Homo sapiens: one gene and its partner. The protein of the gene in region 1 purifies or fractionates together with the protein of each later gene. This does not show direct contact. Each region holds a gene or a part of one and is shown on either strand. Other genes may lie near its edges.

Region 1 (3,842 bases):
AGGAGTGGGCAATCACCAGACAGAAGACAGGAGAGAAAAGGACATTTTAGGTAAAGGGAACAATAAATATACACTCAATGCCTAGAGACACTTAGGAAGAGACAGAGAATCTAAACCATCACAAATAATGCTCCAAAGAAAGGGCTCTTCTGAGAAAAAAGGCTGATTTTCTGGAATCCATGTGAGAGAAACCAACCTGCCATCTTTTGTTGGTAAAATAATTTAAAAATACAAGAATGATAATGAAAATTAGCTTTATTTATGTAATTTAGAAAAAATGATTGTAGTGTTAGAGTTTGTCAAATGTTTTCACTCTGAACAATTTACAATAGTATTTATATACAAACATAATAAAATAGGTACATCACATTGTTCTTGCTTCAAAATGTCTTCTCAATTCTGACATGCTTCTATCACTTCGGTTTGTAATTTTTAAGAGGGAAATGCTCTGTTTTGACACAGTGCTTGATTCACACAGTATAACACTGAAGTAGAAGGAGAATCAACAATCATGAACACAGTTAAAAAATATTTTTCAACCAATATGACTTTATCATTAATCTTTTTTCTATAATAAAATGTTTCCTGTTAAAAAAAATACTTGTATTCACCTGATGACCTAAATTTGTTGTACTAAATTTGGCATTTATATAAACCCATAGTTGATCTAAATACAATGTAGATATGAACCTAGGTTAAAACTCATTGATACAAATGTTTGCCACAAATGAAAATGAACAAAATTGGTAAGAACAGAGGTAAACAGAAAAATCCATTTGAAAAATAGTGGAAATGGCTTATTCTATTTAAAATGAGTAAGACTCAATTTCTGAACCCAATATAAACTAAACCAAAAGATGGTGGAAAACCATGATATAGACACCAAATCTTATGTTGCACTGTAAGGCTGTAAGTAATTTGTACTATTGTATACTGGATAATCCTAGACCAGGTTTCCTAAATAGCTCTCCAATCATTTTATCTTCTTGGAGAAATCAGAGAAAGTTTAATACAATTACTGAATAAGGCAGAATTTTTTTTTTTTTTTTTTAGATGGAGTCTCACTCTGTCGCCCAGGCTGGAGTGCAGTGGCACAATCTTGGCTCACTGCAACCTCTGCCTGCCAGGTTCAAGCGATTTTCCTGCCTCGGCCTCCTGAGTAGCTGGGATTACAGGTGTGTGCCACCACACCCGGCTAATTTTTGTATTTTTAGTAGAGACGGGGTTTCACCATGTTGGTCAGGCTGGTCTCAAACTCCCGACTTCGTGATCCGCCCGCCTTGGCCTTCCAAAGTGCTGGAATTACAGGGATGAGCCACTGTGCCGGGCCAAAGCAGAATTTTAAATCAGCAATTGGGATACAATATTAGTGCAGATAATTTACACTAGAGTCATATTTATATCTGTCACAGTATTAAGTATACCACATATGTATGGACTGTTAGAAGAAATTCATTTCATTTTTAAAGCAGTGGATTGTTTAGTAAGTTTAGTTCTTTAGCACTTTCTTAAAATTCCTGGCAAGTTAGCTCCATTGTCTTTTTAAATAGAAAAACAAAACAAAACAAAACACAAACCCCACGCACACACACAAAAATGTTAAGTATGCTGTTACTTTGAAGAGTCACAGCTATTTAAGGTAAAACAATCAACTAGACCTCTAAGGGCACTTGTGTCTACAATGTCCCTTTTGTCACCAAAGGCAATGATCAAGTATTTATTATATTAAGGTGCTTACTATTCCAAAAAAAAAATCAGAGGAAACTGGTCTTTAATTGGATGCTTGAGTTTTTTCCAGGACTCTTAGTATATTTAGATGTTGGTATCTTGACTTTGACACTTTCCTGATTGCCCTTTATAGCAGCCTCAAGGCGGGCTTTTAGGGCTGGAGAAGAAGCCACTAAACTTTTAAAAACAGATGAATACTGAGGTCCAATTTGCATGAGATTTTGTAGAGCAAAGTCATGTAAATTTCTCATTATGGAAGTTGCTGATCCCAGAGAATTTTCATCCAAAAGGAAGGAAATGAGGATGGGCAAAAGACAGGCCACCAGCTGAGCGCCTAGAAAGTAAACAAATAATATAAGTTCAGTGACATAAATGTTTCTAACAAAAGCCTGCAAATGCACTTGATCTGTATACATTTTTCCCCACTAAAGAAAACAATTCGTCCAATCTCTTCTAAATTAATACTAAATAATATCAATACTTGGGATTAACATAACACCTTTCAATGAATGTGAAATACAGATATAATGTGACTGATTGTTTTGCAATTTAAATAACAGTAAAATTCTGATTTTTGTTGAGACTGAGTATGAATTTAGTGCTGACACTTACGATGGTGTTCTTCAGCAACAGTAACCAGTGTTTCTAAGACCTTTATGCCTTCTTGGAAGATCTCAAGCTCAGCAGTGTTTTCAGGTTTTCTCTTGTCTATTTCCTGCAGTTTTTCCATGATACAGGATGCTAAAGAGTAAATGTATGGGTAGGAAACAGCTGGATTTGGATACTGAAAGATGGAATGTAGGAGCTGGTAGGTCTTGATTTGTACCTAATAAGGTAAGAGAAAAGAATAGCAAATACTATAAATAAATTTTTAAAAAGTCCCTGAGGACTCTTTGCTTTTTAAAGTAGTGAAGGTATTTAAATTTATTTCTAATTTGTGTTTAATTTTGAAAGTCCAAGGGCCAACAGGTAATCAAACATCTATGCTAACAGTGGTTGTGACAGTTTGGAATGGGAAAGAGGCATATAGGTAAACAGGGAAGCAAAGCTGAGTGTTAATTTTTCTTCTTTTCTCTAATTCCCATTTTCCCCCTCATGTCTTTCTCTATAATGTAAAAAACAAAAACACCACCAAAACCCCTCCTGTAACATTTTTTTTTTTTTTTGAGTGCCCAGGCTGGAGTGCAGTGGTGTGATCTCAGCTCACTGCAACCTCTGCCTCCTGTGTTCAAGTGATTCTCCTGTTTCAACCTCCCGAGTCGCTGGGACTACAGGCGTGCACCTCCACACCCAGCTAATTTTTTGTATTTTTAGTAGAGACGGGGTTTCACCTCGTTGGTCAGGCTGGTCTCGAACTCCTGACCTCAAGTGATCCACCTGCCTTGGCCTCCCGAAGTGCTGGGATTACAGACATGAGCCACCGTGCCCAACCTCCTAACATTTTTATGGGTAGAAAGCAAAACAAAACAAAACAAAAAAACACCCAAAACAAAACACATACAACCTTGAAAGATATTTTGTTGATTTCAGAAAATGTTTTAGACAAAAATGATGTATTTGATGTTCAAATGTCATGGTCTGAGTGTTTCAAGGAACGTCTGGACCATACTAATGTGTCATCAGGCATCAGAGTCCCGACTTGGAGACTGCTATACAAAGCTGCTGCAGGCAGCAGGCAACAGGACAGACGATAAAAGGAAATGACTATACATCAAAGATATAAATAAACTTTTATTGAGTTAACTGTAATGGTATTTTAATAATTATTTTTTCTGAGAGAAAATCTGGTTCCTGTATCTTCAGGAGTAGATATATGTGTGATCATTGGCTATGAACTCACCTAGAGGCACATAAAAAATAGGACATTACTCAAGCAAATGAAGGGGACATAAAAGAATGGGATAAATTTGTGTGTATTGCTTTTGGAATGGGTCCTGTTATTTCACATTCATATTACTGAAGGTATGTGCTGGAGTCTTTTTTTTGAGACAGCGTCTGGCTCTGTCATCCAGGCTGCGGTGCAGTGGCATGATCGTGGCTCACTGCAGCCTCAAGGTCCCAGGCTCGAGTGATCCTCCTGCCTCAGTCCCCCAGAGCAGCTGGGACTACAGGCC
Region 2 (3,842 bases), on another chromosome or scaffold:
AGTAGAGATGGGGTTTTGCCATGTTGGCCAGGCTGGTCTCGAACTCCTGGCCTCATGTGATCTGCCCGCTTTGGCTTCCTAAAGTGTTGGGATTATGGGAGTGAGCCACCGCACCTGGCTGATTCTTCATGTTTGTTCGTTTGTAATCTGGTCCCACTCTCGACCACACCTTCTTTGCCTGTCTGTACTCCCAGGCAACTCTTGATCTCTTTGTGTCACTGTAGATTAGTTTGGATTTTCTAGATTTTTTTCATGTAAATGGAATCAAACAGGTTATAGTGGGGAGGTTTTTGTGGCCTTTTTTTTTTTTTTTTGAGACGGAGTTTTGCTCTTGTTGCCCAGGCTAGAGTGCAATGGCGCGATCTCGGCTCACTGCAACCTTTGCCTCCTGGGTTCAAGTGATTCTCCTTCCTCAGCCTTCCGAGTAGCTGGGATTACAGGCATCCGTCACCACGCCCAGCTAATTTTTTGTATTTTTAGTAGAGTTGGAGTTTCACCATGTTGGCCAGGCTGATCTCGAACTCCTAAACTCAGGTGATCTGCCTACCTCGGCCTCCCAAAGTACTGGGATTACAGGCATGAGCCACTGTGCCTGGCCTTGTCTGTTCTTTTTAATGACAGGTTAGCTGTTTTCCACTTTTAAATGGTTTAAAATAAAATCAGAAGAATAACATTTTTGTGACTTGAAAATTATATGAAATTCAAATTTCTGGGTCTATAAATAAGCCTCACTCATAAATTTATGTATTTTCTGTGGCAGCTTTTGCATTACAAAAGCAGAGGTGGGTAGCAATAAAGATTGCATGGCTCAAAAAGCCTAAAATATTTACTATCTGGCCCTTCACAAAACAAGTTTACTGACCTCTGGCCGATTGTGTGGTCTGTTCTGGAGAATGTTGCATGTCTACTTGAAAAGAATGTGCATTCTTTTGTTTCTAGTGAAGTGTTCTATAAATGTCTATTAGTTTAAGTTGCGTGATAGCGCACCTATAGTCCCAGCTACTTGAGGCGCTGAGGTGGGAGGATCACTGGTGCCCAGGCGGTTGAGTCTGCAGTGAGCCATAACTATGCCACTGCACTCCAGCCTGGGAGACAGAGCAAGACCCCGTCTCAAAAAATATAAAATAAAAAAATAAAAAAATTATCGAGAATGGAATATTGAAATGAAGTATTGTTGTTGAATTGTGTATTTCTTTTTTTTTTTTGAAATGGAGTTTCGCTCTGTCACCCAGGTCGGAGTGCAGTGGTGTGATCTCTGCTCACTGCAACCTCTGCCTCCCGGTTCAAGCGATTCTTCTGCCTCAGTCTCCCAAGTAGCTGGGACCACAGGCGTGTACCACCACGCCTGGCTAATTTTTGTATTGTTAGTAGAGACGGGGCTTCGCCATGTTGGCCAGGCTGATCTTGAACTCCTGACCTCAAGTGATCTGCCTGCCTCGACCTCCCAAAGTGCTGGGGTTACAGGCATGAGCCACGTGTCTGCCCCCGTTTTTTTTTTTGTGTGTTTTTTTTTTGAGACAGAGTCTCACTCTGTCACCCAGGCTGGATAGCAGTGCTAGGATTACAAGTGTGAGCCACCATGCCCATTTCCCCATATTTTGATAGCAGCAGTTAGTGTACTCACATTTAATATAATTATTAGTGTGGTTGCGTTCATATCTGCTATTTTGTTATTTGTTTTCTGTATGTATCATGAATTTTTTGGTTCTTTGTCCTCCTTTACTGTCTTTTGTGTTAAATAAATATTTTTTACGTACTATATTAATTCTTCTGTTGATTTGATTAATTCTTCTGTATATTTTTAGTTTTTTTGTTTGTTTGTTTGTTTTTTGAGATGGAGTTTTGCTCTTGTCGCCCAGGCTAGAGTGCAATGGCACGATCTCGGCTCCCTGCAACCTCCATCTCCCTGGTTCAAGCAATTCTCCTGCCTCAGCCTCCCGAGTAGCTGGGATCACAGGCGCGTGCCACCATACCTGGCTAATTTTTGTATTTTTGGTAGTGACAGGGTTTCACCATATTGGTCAGGCTGATCTCTAATTCCTGACCTCAAGTGATCCTCCCGCCTCGGCCTCCCAAAGTGCTAGGATTACAGGCATGAGCCACTGCACCCAGCCTTCAGTTATTTTCTTTTTCTTTTCTTTTTTTTTTTGAGACAGAGTCTAGTTTTGTCGCCCAGGCTGGAGTGCATTGACATGATTTTGGCTTACTGCAACCTCTCTCTCCCGAGTTCAAGCAATTCTCCTGCCTCAGCCTCCCGAGTAGCTGGTATTTCAGGCATGCACCACCACACCCAGCTAATTTTTGTATTTTCAGTAGAGACGGGGTTTCGCCGTGTTGGCCAGGCTGGTCTCGATCTCTTGACCTCGTGATCCGCCCACCTCAGCCTCCCAAAGTGTTGGGATTACAGGCATGAGCCACCACACCTGGTCAATCTCTTCTTACTTGTGATTCTATTTCCAAAAAAGATCATGTACACATGTACCAGAAGTTAGGACTTGAACATATCTTTTGGGGGGACATAATTCGACCCACAACAGTTGCTGTAGGGATTACTGTATGTATCTTATCATTGTGTACTTTAGATTAATACTCATTTAATTCCAGTAAAATATAGAGGCTTTGCTCCAATATAGATCCACTTCCACCCCTTCCCCATGTTCTTATTGTCATACATATTACACCTGCGCATGTTATAAATCTGATAACGCAGTGTTATAATTGTTACTTACACAGTTGCTTACACCAAGTATAAGCATCTTTTCTCTTGTTAACAAAAAATAAAAATATCAGACAATATTCATGTTAGAACTACACTCATTTTTCAGCTGAAACCATACTCTTTTTTCTTTTTTTGAGATGGCGTCTTGCTCTGTCGCCCAGGCTGGAGTGCAGTGGTGCAATCTCGGCTTACCGCAATCTCCACCTCCCGGGTTCAAGCAATTCTGCCTCAGCCTCCCGAGTAGCTGGGACTACAGGCACACGTCACCATGCCCAGCTAATTTTTTGTGTGTGTATTTTAGTAGAGATGGGGTTTCACCATGTTGCCCAGGCTGGTTGCAAACTCCTGAGCTCAGGCAGTCTGCCCGCCTTGGCCTCCCAAAGTGCTGGGATTACAGGTGTGAGCTACTACGCCCGGCCCAACCATACTCATTTTTCAATTAGCTATGGATACAAGAATTCAGCAAAAATCAACATAGGCATTCTGTGAGAATCCATTGACTTATGCAATTTACTATAAAGAGTATTGTGCATTTTACTGTTATTTGTAAATTGTGTGCTACATACTGCTGTATCAGTAATATTCGTATGTACTTGTGTACATGGGTACCTCGGTTTTGGGGAGCGAATGGTTAAACATCCGCCAGCACATCACTGCATGCTGCCCTGTTACTCCAGAAAGGCTGCGTTTGCACTCATCAGTGCTGTATGAGAGTTCCTTTTTTCTTGTACCAACACAAAATGTTCATTCTCCTTATTTCATCTTTTGTCAATATGAGGCAAAAAACAACGTAATCTCAATTTGCTTCCAGTGTATTTCGTGGCCATTTGTATTTCTCTCTTGGGACATCACCCACTTCTTTCTTTGGATATTCATAGTGTGTGGTTTTTTTTAAATTAATGATTTATGGACAGTCTTTTATATTAAAGGATTAACCCATTACTTGCCATGTGTTGCAACTGGTTTTTTCCAGTTTGTAACTTGTTTTCTTTCACTTTTATTTATATTGTCACTTTTCGCCAATTAGAAATTTTAATAGATTTAAGTTTTTTTTCCAGTAGGGTGAAATTTACCAGTGTGTTGGTCTATTTTTTGAGATGGAGTCTTTGTCACCCAGGCTAGA

The links. Proteins that work in one complex are often made in the same cells at the same time.
Region 2: the proteins of HEATR5A (region 1) and GTF2H3 fractionate together in Homo sapiens (co-fractionation; one large-scale study listed by BioGRID). This does not show direct contact.

What each region holds. Positions count from the first base shown.
Region 1 is NC_000014.9:31,291,551-31,295,392, forward strand, and holds the end of HEATR5A (HEAT repeat-containing protein 5A), read right to left. Parts: intron 2,555-3,842; coding exon 2,341-2,554; intron 2,063-2,340; coding exon 1,755-2,062; 3' UTR 238-1,754; downstream 1-237.
Region 2 is NC_000012.12:123,640,040-123,643,881, forward strand, and holds part of GTF2H3 (general transcription factor IIH subunit 3), read left to right. Parts: intron 1-3,842. UniProt on the Homo sapiens protein: Component of the general transcription and DNA repair factor IIH (TFIIH) core complex, which is involved in general and transcription-coupled nucleotide excision repair (NER) of damaged DNA and, when complexed to CAK, in RNA transcription by RNA polymerase II.